Homo sapiens: one gene and its partners. The protein of the gene in region 3 purifies or fractionates together with the protein of the main gene of each other region. This does not show direct contact. Each region holds a gene or a part of one and is shown on either strand. Other genes may lie near its edges.

What was found.
Region 1: the proteins of SLC2A1 (region 3) and ATP6AP1 purify together in Homo sapiens (affinity purification with mass spectrometry; 2 studies listed by BioGRID and IntAct, with this or other methods). This does not show direct contact.
Region 2: the proteins of SLC2A1 (region 3) and ATP11C purify together in Homo sapiens (affinity purification with mass spectrometry; 2 studies listed by BioGRID and IntAct, with this or other methods). This does not show direct contact.

Annotation. Positions count from the first base shown.
Region 1 is NC_000023.11:154,426,978-154,430,725, forward strand, and holds the start of ATP6AP1 (V-type proton ATPase subunit S1 precursor), read left to right. Parts: upstream 1-1,699; 5' UTR 1,700-1,715; coding exon 1,716-1,876; intron 1,877-2,070; coding exon 2,071-2,197; intron 2,198-3,748. UniProt on the Homo sapiens protein: Accessory subunit of the proton-transporting vacuolar (V)-ATPase protein pump, which is required for luminal acidification of secretory vesicles.
Region 2 is NC_000023.11:139,800,389-139,804,136, reverse strand, and holds part of ATP11C (phospholipid-transporting ATPase IG), read left to right. Parts: intron 1-1,797; coding exon 1,798-1,901; intron 1,902-3,748. UniProt on the Homo sapiens protein: Catalytic component of a P4-ATPase flippase complex which catalyzes the hydrolysis of ATP coupled to the transport of aminophospholipids, phosphatidylserines (PS) and phosphatidylethanolamines (PE), from the outer to the inner leaflet of the plasma membrane.
Region 3 is NC_000001.11:42,956,945-42,960,692, forward strand, and holds the start of SLC2A1 (solute carrier family 2, facilitated glucose transporter member 1), read right to left. Parts: upstream 1,925-3,748; 5' UTR 1,708-1,924; coding exon 1,690-1,707; intron 1-1,689. UniProt on the Homo sapiens protein: Facilitative glucose transporter, which is responsible for constitutive or basal glucose uptake. Has a very broad substrate specificity; can transport a wide range of aldoses including both pentoses and hexoses.

The DNA of each region.
Region 1 (3,748 bases), on a different chromosome or scaffold from region 3:
AGATATCACCTCCTGGTGGGAGCAGCTTCATCGGTGCCCCTCTCCTTACATCCCTCCCAGTCCCATGTCTCAACCTTTGGAATATTCATGACCCTGTATCATGACCTGCTGTCCTGCATGTCCTCTAGACCAAACTGTCAACTTCCGGGGCAGAGTCCAGGTGCCTGGCCCATAGCAGGTGCTTCAGGAAGCCTCCAGGGCCATCACTCCAGGGACCCCTAGCAATGCAGGGAAGAATAAAAGCAGCCACAGGTGGGTTTCTTCCCTAAGCATGGAAGCAGCTCAGCAACAGAGTCCTGGCGGAGGCAAGATTGCCTTCCGCATTCCAGAGGAAGTATTTGCCTTGAAACTATGTAACAAAAGTAACAGAAACATAATAGACATGCTTTCCTTTTTAAGTTTGCTGGATTCTCCTGGGATACAGTGAAGCTCCAGTGAAAACCTCTCTCCTCAGCTAGTTAAGGCCTGGAAATGGCCACTTGGGGGTTTCCCTAAGCACCCGAAACTCAGTGAGCCCCCAAGTGACCTCGTCTCCCAGTCCCCAACTCAGAGAGACCCAAAAGCTACAATCTTCTTTGACTGTATTGTCAGACCCACTTCCTCTCTCCAGCTCAACTGCCACTATCCTAGTCCTAGTCTGAATCACATGTGACAATCATGACTACAATCTTTTTTTTTTTTTTTTTTTGAGATGGACTCTCACTCTGTCGCCCAGGATGGAGTGCAGTGGCGCGATCTCGGCCCACTGCAACCTCCGCCTCGCGGGTTCAAGTGATTCTCCTGCCTCAGCCTCCCGTGTAACTGGGACTACAGGTGTGCACCACCATGCCCAGCTAATTTTTGTATTTTCAGTAGAGATGGGGTTTCACCATGTTGTGCAGGATGGTCTCGATCTCTTGACCTCATGATTCGCCCGCCTCGGGCTCCCAAAGTGCTGGGATTACAGGCGTGAGCCACAGCGCCCGGCCCGTTAGGGTGTCTTTGATGCCACGCTTCGCTCTGGGTTTTCTCCTTCCTCTTTGATTGCTCCTTGTCCGATCTCTTTTCTGGACCCTTCTCCTCCTGCCCAATGTAAGTGCTGGGTGTTCCCCTAGATGCTATCCTGAGCCCGCTTCACTCCTCGTTCTAAGGGATTACAGTCTCCTCTCACCTGTATCAGGGAGGGTCCATCTGCAGGAAAAAGACACCACTTTTGCAATTTTAAGGAAAAGGATTAAAACAGGGATTGGCCGGGTGCGGCGATGCGCGCCTGTAGTCCCACTTTTCCGGAGGCTGAGGCGGGAGGATCGCTTGAGCCCGGGGACTCGAGACCAGCCTGGCCAACATAGCTAGACCCCGTCTCTAAAGAAAAAAAAAAGACAAAAGAAGAGAACAACAACAAAAAAACCAAAATAAAAATAAAAATAAAAACGGACGGGCGAACGCGTCGGGTGGGCGTAGGGTTCCGCGAAGCCTCCCTGTCCCTCTTGTCTCGTCCTAGTCGGTCTAGCTGGGCCCCATCCCCTTTCCCACTCGGAGCGTGAGCGCCTGGAGACACGTACAGCCAACCAGTGAGAAGGAGTGGCCGCGAGTGGCATGCACTTGGTCCAATTACCTGCGGCCCTGCCGGTCGGCCCGCGCTGGGGCCAATGGAGGTGCGAGGCGGGGCTCGGGCGGGGGCAACGGTCACCTGATCTGCGGCTGTCGAGGCCGCTGAGGCAGTGGAGGCTGAGGCTATGATGGCGGCCATGGCGACGGCTCGAGTGCGGATGGGGCCGCGGTGCGCCCAGGCGCTCTGGCGCATGCCGTGGCTGCCGGTGTTTTTGTCGTTGGCGGCGGCGGCGGCGGCGGCAGCGGCGGAGCAGCAGGTCCCGCTGGTGCTGTGGTCGAGTGACCGGTGAGCGGGCCGGGGTGGGATGCGCTGTGGCGGCTGAGGCGCCCTCGCCCGACTCCGGCGCTGTCCTAGGCGAGGGGTGGTGAGGCCCGGAGGTGGACTGTTCCTTGCTCGGGGGCTCGCAGCGAATCTGCCGGCGACAGAGCTCCAGTCCACATGCGCCCCCGTCTGACAGCACCTCTTCTGTGCCCTGCCAGGGACTTGTGGGCTCCTGCGGCCGACACTCATGAAGGCCACATCACCAGCGACTTGCAGCTCTCTACCTACTTAGATCCCGCCCTGGAGCTGGGTCCCAGGAATGTGCTGCTGTTCCTGCAGGACAAGGTGCGCCCGCCCCAGCCCACTCTCCCCCGGTCATCGGGAGGCAGCCAGGCCCCCTCCCCCCATGACACTGACGCCCATTCCCCAAGGGAAGCTTCAGTGACCTTGTCCCAACTGTAGGGAGGTGTGGGTCGTCTCATGGGAAGGCCTGTAGTAAACGCTTCAGTGGGCATGGCGACAGCCTCGGAAATGGCACCAACTTGATTGGAGGAAGCGACGGACCAGAGGCCAGGTACCTACTGAGTACCAAGCACTTTGGATATCTGACTTAGTCCAATATGGTGGGTGGGGATTATCGTCCCTGTTTGTTTATAGATGAGAAGACTGAGGCTGGAGGTTAAGTGACTTGTCCAAGCTCATACAGCTAATGGGTGGCAGAGTTGTAATTCTAGCTGTGATGATCATAATAATGATAATTGGAAAATGCTCACCTGTTTAGTGCTTTGTAGGCACTTGCTACACTGATGTCATTATCTTGGTTTCACTGCCAAGGAAAGTAAGGTTTGTCGAGATACAATGTTTCACTACAGTTGATAGATACCACTTTGGTTCCAGCCTGAGTCTGCCAATCCTCCCTCCCAATTGGAGCTCATAACCCGCATGCTGTTTTCCTTCCCATCCAGGATCTTTGCCCCAAAAGCAGGCGTGGAGACCATGAGATGACTCTAAGATAGCAAGTCTCTGCTAGGCCCTCCCTTGTTGGTGGCCTGTATGGCTCATTGCCCTTGTAGTCTCCCTTGGTTGCTGTGTGGGCAGATGGTGGTGGCCTGAAGTCTTTTCAGGAGGTGGTAAATAATATAGTCAAATAGGAACTGAGTCCTAGTTCTACCATGTAACCAGCCATTGGAGGCATGAAATAATCTTTGTGAATGACAGTTTCTACATCTGTAAAATGAAGACACCACCTATATCAGAGGGCTGTGAGTGGGAAATCTTTTTTTTTTTTTTTTTTGAGACGGAGTCTCGCTCTGTTGCCCAGGCTGGAATGCAGTGGTGCAATGTCAGCTCAGCTCACTGCACCCTCCGCCTCCCGGGTTCAAGCAGTTCTCTGCCTCAGCCTCCCGAGTAGCTAGGATTACAGGGCGCCCGCCACTACACCCAGCTAATTTTTGTATTTTTTTGTATTTTTAGTAGAGATGGGGTTTCACCATGTTGGCCAGGCTGGTCTTGAACTCCTGACCTCGTGATCCACCCACCTCAGCCTCCCAAACTGCTGGGATTACAGGCGTGAGCCACCGCGCCCGGCCTGTGAGGGGGAATTCTTATAATCCACATAAAACATCTAGCCAGGATCCCCCAGTCTTAGGGCATTCACCCATTCATTCATTTGCCCAATATGGAAAGCCTACTATGTGCCAGGTATTGTGAAGTGTTGGGGATATGGCAGTGAGCAGAAGAACCCAAGCCCCCACCCTCAGGAAGCTGACATTCTTGTGAGGGTGGCCAGTAAATACTAAGTCGGTATAGGATATGATGTCAGTGTTACGGCCTTTAGGGAAGGAAGCAGGCTAAGGGGACAGAGTGACTGGGATGCTATTTTAGATAAGGGTGGTC
Region 2 (3,748 bases), on a different chromosome or scaffold from region 3:
ATAACTTCATGTATGCTAACCTTACAATTTGATCTATTTTTTTCTAAAATGTATATTTTCATTAAAAATGTATATTCTTGGGATGTAGGAAACCCAACCTGGAGTAATTTGATTGCTATTTAAAAATAATACTTAGGGCTGGGTGCGGTGGCTCACGCCTGTAATCCTAGCACTTTGGGAGGCTGAGGTAGACGGATCATTTGAGTTCAGCAGTTCGAAACCAGCCTGGCCAACATGGTGAAACCCTGTCTCTACTAAAAATACAAAAAAATTAGCCGGGCATAGTGGTGGGCGCCTGTAATTCCAGCTACTCGGGAGGCTGAGGCAATAGAATTGCTTGAGCCCGGGAGATGGAGGTTGCAGTGAGCCAAGATCACGCCACTGCACTCCAGCCTAGGTGACAGGGTGAGTCTCCATCTCAAAAAAAAAAAAAAAAAAAAAAAAAAAAAAAGATAGGGTGTAGTTTGGAAAATGTTTGCTTTATAAGTAAGTTATAAAGCAACATTTTATGTACATATAACAAATTATAACTCATTTATAATTGCAAGTGACTTAAAGTAAATTTGGCCAAATGGGGGTAACTTATTTCCCTCATACACTTTCTGGCACAGTCGGTTTTCTTGGCCATGGTCCAGAGCTCCACAGGGCATGAAGATGTATCCTCTCTATGCTGCCTTTAAGGAGGGTTACTCATGTGGCTCACCTCTGGGTATGTCCTTGGAGGGCTCCTCTGTTTGTTTATTCCATCTGGAGTTGAGGACTACGACTCAGTATGTAAAAAAGAACCTTTACCTGTTGGATGACTAATTCTGTATTTCAAAAGCATGGTAATGACCTGCTTTTAACCTTTTCAAAAACAAAGTTATAATTTAGGGAATGTCAAGATATAAATCAAGAAATCTACATAAAGATTTCCTGATAGTGAAAAAGTTGTTTGGAGTAAGAAAACTTTCAGATAGTTTCTTTTTTCAGTTAAGTTGTTCTGATCAAATCAGCTAAAAGTACAGAGGTTTTCAAAATCAGGAGATAGTTTTAAATATAGTTCAGACATTGCCGTAATATTTCCCCCAAGATGACGACAACAGCTTTCCCTTCTGCCTAAGTGGTGCGCTCTTTGAGTCTGCTTTAACCCTTGTTTGATGATTTATAAGTGGGTTCATTGGCGCCTGCCTTGAGTTCTGGATGAATCAAGTGCATAATATACACTAGTAGAATATTCTAATTATCTGACTAATGCAAGACACGTCATCTCCCTGCCCCTTGTACAAAATGTATCCATATTGAACATTTTCAAGATCATTAATTAAGCTATTTGTGTAATGGAACTATTAATGATTTTTTTCTTGCTGTTGGCAAAATTTTAGCATTTTTGTGACCAAAAAGGTTATGTTCAATTCATATGTGTATATCTCCATTGCCATACACTATAGTGAGCAAAATAATAAGTCTCAGTTCTGTAAATAGGAAAAAAAATAAATGTATTAACTTTTTCACGTGGTTTTAGTTAATTATATGCATGTTGTGAATAGAATTCTCTCAGCTGTCCATGTCAAGAAGAGCTTTTAGGTTTTTAATTGTCTTTGAAACCCTCCTTGCGGCAGGTTATCTTTCTAATTATTTGTAATATATTTTCATAATAATACCATAAAACTTATTAGTGGGAAATGTTAATATTTGTTTATTCTGCCAAAGCCTCTTACTAAAACATAAACTAAATTTGTTTCTGAAATCAGTTGGGTGTATGATTATGAAAAGAAAGTTTTTTTGGTTTTCACTTTTTCTTCTGCTTTCAACTAGACACATTATGCAGTACGTGATACCATTGCACTGTGTACAGCAGAATCCATCGATACCCTCCGAGCAGCAATTGAATGTGAACAGCCTCAACCTGACCTCTACAAGTAAGAATCACCTGGTTTCATTTTACTTCTGTTTGTTGGCTCTGCTTCTCTTTGCTAATAGTATTGCAAAAGAAACACCCACCACTTACCAGCCTACTCTCATTTGTGTTTTTATGGGCGATTCCTTCCTTCTGGCAGAAAAATGAATCAAATCAGCCTTGTTCACTATCAACCCAGAATAAATCATTGTGGGCCCAGGTATCTTATGATTTTTCTTTTATTTTTATTACTTGTAAACATGGCCATATATCAAAATTTTAGATTATGTTACCCTGTAAGGCTGATCTATCAGACTGATGCAGTAACCAGTTAATTAAATAAAAAACAAATCCTTTTACATGCCATCTAACATTAAAGAGAGAAGGGGGATATCCTCTTCATGCAATTAGTAGGTTCTATCCTTTCTTAGAATGATCATGATGCACTAAAGATTGCAAATAGGCTCTTTCTTGTCCACAGTAAACAGTTAAGGGATGAGTACAATGGTGTAATTTCCTCTATTTTACTATACTTAGGCTCTCTGGAGTAGGTTTGCTGATTATTAGTCATTGTGGGTTGTCAAAAATTGGCGTTTGATTTCAAGACTGGTTAGTTGGGTTGATTAGAGCATAGTACTAATCAGGGTAGTGTAACAGGTTTTATCCCCACGTGGGCTAATTAATTTTATCCTATTCTACCGTTGCAGATGGCATCCATTACCCATCTTGTTAATGCATGCTGTTAGTCATAATGAGTGACCAAGTGGTTGGATGTGGTTTACACTAACACCTAGTAGTGGAAAAACAAAGTATTCATTCTACTTCAAGAACAATGACCTCCCTCCTTCTCATCACTTTTTCTTTCCTCTTTCCCTTCCTCTTCCGTATCCACCTTGATGATAGGAACTAGGGCCAAAAAGTGTAACAGTTATTCTCTACCTTCAAGGGACTCACTGTGAGCAAGAGATGAAGTAATAAAGCTAAGCTTATACAAGGTGATAATAGAGGTGAGTGTAAGGTCTATGGAATCACAGAAAAGGGAGTAACTTATTCTGCCTGAGCTAGAGAACAATATCTATACCCTTGCATATTTATAGGGAAATCCCCACATTTTTCAGTTGCTTTAAGTATGAAGGAGAATGATAGGACAGGGAAGGTTATTCCTTATTTCCTTAGACGATTGAATTCCTTGCTGTGTGACTTCGGAATACCTTGTACTTCTATCACTCTAGTGGTAAGCACTTGCGTCGTAATTGCCTATTTACTTTTATAGGGCAAGGAGCCATTTCTTTTTTGCTTATTAGTACATCTTCAGCACTTAGTATAGCACTGGCACAATTAATATATGATGAATGAATGAGCAAGCCTTCATATTTTGTGTATATGAGTAATATATATTTCTATTTTCTGGGGAAAATGCTGTTTACGATGCAGATTATAAAACACTGATGTTAACGAGGGATTAGGTATTTTTACCTTATTTTGCAGAAATACAGGTTACCATACACCTATTATATTAAGTGATTGGGTCAAGCTCAGTATTGAGATCAACTACAAGTCACAGGCTGGACATTTCCAAGATGGCATTCAAGTGTTCACTGTCTAAGACTAGTACTATGGTTTAAAGAGTGGTTTCAGGACCAGCAGCAGCAGCATTACTGGGGAACCTGAATCAGAAGCTCAGGGATGGGACCTAGAAATCTGTGGTTTAATTAGCGCTCCAGTGATTCTGATGCACACTCAAGTGTAAGAACTACTGAACTAGCGGTTTTGAAAATTGTATTTTAGCACCAGAAACCTTTCTTCACATGATCCAAGATAGAAGTTACGTTATTTATATAAACTTATAAAAGAGAGAGGTGTTGTGTG
Region 3 (3,748 bases):
CAGGGCTATAAGGTCCGTGACGCTTAAAGTAGTTTGGCTAAGAACCTGCTGATTTTCTCCTCCACTTTTCTGTCTCCACGTAGTATTCCCTTATCCACTCAACAAATAAATACCCATGTCTGGCATAGTATGCTGAATAGATAGTTCCTTCCCTAGAGGAAGTGACAAAAGTGATCTCTTTCAGATGGAAAAACTGAGGCCCAGAAGTTAAGTGGCCTGCAAGAGCCCTGAGATATTTGGACTTCCTTGCCACTAGCTAGAAGAGCTTCTCACTGAACTTTTGTTTAGTTATATCCCACCCTTACGGCTCACCTAAGATCCTGGGAGCCTTCCCCGGGAACTTCCCCGGGGTCTCACCTCAAGCGAGGGCCCAGGAAGGGTGAACCAAGTCGTCTGGATTTATGGATTCAACAGGTGTGGGGCGGAAGGCCTTTTCCTGCCGAGGGTGCGGCCCAGCGCCACCCCGCTCAGTCTCAGCGGGACACCTCCACAGCCAGTAGGAAGGGCAGTTCAAAATTCAGTGCTACCCCCGCGTCCCAGCTAAGAAAACAAGGGCCATCCAGGTGCCCTCCCAGCTGACGAGATGGAAAAATCAAAGTATAATAGATAAAGAGGGACCGTTTCAAAAGAAAAAGGGGACTTGAAAATATTGTAGACTAGGGGGAGGAAAGGAGGTGGAAAGAAACAATGCCCTACACACAGGAGGGGCTCCACAAACAATTTGTTGAAAAGAAATCGCTCTGCGGACGCTACAAAGATGCCCTGCAGGACAAGCCCACTTACACAGAAAAAAAGAAATCCTATCTAGGGAGTTGTTGGTCCCCAGAGTCCCCATCCCTCATTCCCCAACCCCGTGGCGTGCGCGCTTCCCGCTAGACTTCAGCCTGGGGCTCTTTCCTGGCCCCCAGATCCCCCGCCCCTCCGGTTGCGCTCCCCGCCTGGCCCCGAGGGTAAACCTGCCTCCGCGGAACACATCTCCGCGAGACTGGGCCAAAGCTTTGGGGCCTGCACTCCTCGCAAAGGAGAGCCTCCGAGACCGGAGGTTCATCTCAACCCCCGCGTTCGAGCCCGGGCCTGGAGAAAAGTGCCCTCCCCTCGGCCTCGGCCTCGTCACCGCGGGGGACTGGCGGGAGGAGTAGGGGAGGCCGGTGGGACACCTCGCACCAGGCCGCCCACCTACAGGGGCGTCCGGGCTAGGGGAGCAGACGGAGAGCGGGGGCGGCTCCTGACTCCTCCGCGCGCCGGGGCCGGGGCCGGGCCGGGGGCTCGGCCCGCTCAGCCAATGGGCGCCGCGCTCGGGCCCCCTCCCCCGCACCGGGAGGGGCCGAGGCTGGGCTGCTGCTGCCGAGGTCGTGTGCGACGTGCCGCTCCCGGGCCCTGTGTCCCCAGCCCCAGCAGGGCCGCGTGGACGGCGCGGCGCCCCCGGAAGGAGGCCATGTGCTCAGTGCCGGCGCCAACTACGCACGCGGCGCCCTCCGGCCCGCTAGATCCGAAGCCCATCCCCACTGCGGCCAGCGGCCCGGCGGGGCGCTGCGCTCGGGACCCGCACCGAGCCAGGCTCGGAGAGGCGCGCGGCCCGCCCCGGGCGCACAGCGCAGCGGGGCGGCGGGGGAGGCCCTGGCCGGCGTAAGGCGGGCAGGAGTCTGCGCCTTTGTTCCTGGCGGGAGGGCCCGCGGGCGCGCGACTCACCTTGCTGCTGGGCTCCATGGCAGCGCTGCGCTGGTGGCTCTGGCTGCGCCGGGTACGCGGGTGGCGACGGGCGTGCGAGCGGCGCTCTCCCGCTCAGGCTCGTGCTCCGGTCCGGGGACTCCCACTGCGACTCTGACTCCGACCCCCGTCGTTTGGTCTCCTGCTCCCTGGCGTGCTCACTCGGGGACCCGCGACTAGCGACCGGCACGCTCGCTGTTGCTACCTCTTGCCTCTTGCCAGAGAGCGCGCGGACCGTAGCGTTTATAGGACCCCGGCCATTGGCTGGCGACGCCGGTGTGTCAGGGGTGTGTGGGCAGGACCTCGGGGCGGGGCCTGGGGCCCAGCCTGTCCTGGGCGGCGCTCTGCGGGGAGGGGGTGAGGGGAGTGGCCGGGGCCGGGGCCCCCCCTAACCACTGCCTCGCTCAGGCTGCCGATCGGCTCGTTCTCTCTGCGTTGGGACCGCGGAGGGCATTCGCTGTGTGACTCAGGGCAAGTGTGCGCACCTCTCTGAGCCTCCGCGGCCTTCTCTAGCAAAATGGTGGAGCCGGTACCCGGCTGTAAGGCAAGCTGGGATGCGCGGAGTAGCGGGTGGAAAGCTGGACTGGAGTTCTCACTCGGCCGCTGGGTGACTTCGGTGCACTAGGGATAGTAACAGTACCACCTCGTAGGGTTGTAGAAAGACCAAGTGAGTTAATATTTGTAAAGTGTTTAGAACAGCGTCTACTGCATGGAAAGTAGTATTTATTTGTTAGAGAGACTCCAGGAGGTCTTGCCCAGGGATTGACTTCTCCCTTCCCTGTCTCCACCCCCCACATTCCCGTTTGTGAGCCAAGCCTTGCTTTTGCACCGGCCGGGCTCTCTTGCCTGGAAATGCATACCCATCTCAAACCTGGGCTTTAAAATCACCTCCTCTGGGACGCCTTCCTCTACTTCTCACAGTTCAGGTGAGTCTATGGTGACCTGTAAGTGTGGAAAATATGAAAGGCAGGCTAACTGACTGACATGATAGGACATTAAGGACATGATAGACCTCGGGTTTGAACCAGCTCAACTGTATACTGGCCCGGCCGCGATCCTGGGCGAGTTCCTGGCCAGTGAGGCTGTTTTCGTTTTTTTCTTTAATTTTTTTTTTTCTCAGACAGAGTCTCGCTCTGTCGCCCAGGCTGGAGTGCAGCGGCACGATCTCGGCTCACTGTAACCTCCGCCTCCCGGATTCAAGCAGTTCTCTGCCTCAGCCTCCCGAGTAGCTGGGATTACAGGCGCCCGCTATCACCCCTGGCTAATTATTTTTATTTTTAGTAGAGACGGGGTTTCACCATTTTGGCCAGGCTGGTCTTGAACTCTTGACCTCGTGATCCACCCACCTCGCCTCCCAAAGTACTGGGATTACAGGCGTGAGCCACTGAGCCCGGCCGAGGCTGTCTTCTTATGAGTAAATGGAATTCCCACACCAATCTCATTGCTATCAGGAGAGGTGCAATTTCCAGATAAGCTCATGAAGTGTTTAGCATGGAAGTTCTCATTTACTGGTTGGTGGTATTGTTGGTTTATTTATTTAGTCTGTTAGTAAATAAATAAATGCTGGTCTCAAACTCCTGGGCTCAAGTGATCCTCCCACCTTAGCCTCCGTAGTAGCTGGGAGTGCAGGCATGTGCCACTGCACTGGTAGTGGTATTGCTATCATCTGACTTCACCTTATTTCCTCTAGACCAGTGCCTTACTTGAGACACAGTGAAGGGAAGGACCCCCAGTCCAAAGGTCTGATCAAAGTCTTGAGGGTCCCTTTCCCGATGGAGGGAGTCATGGTGGGCTTACTGTCTGTCGGAAACCGGGAGGCTGAGCCGACCAGATGACCCCTGGAGTTCTCTGGCAATGTGTCCAGTTCTGGCTGAGGGGCACCTTGGTTGAGTATGGAGCCCTGAAACAGAAGGCAGGTGCATTCTGGGCACCCCCCTGCCCAAGGCTTCAATTCCTGTGGTCTCTCTATGCTCAGCCTGGAAAGCTTGGGCCACCTCTCTCCTCACCCCTGGACAGACCAAGTCCTGCTGACTCCGCTGTC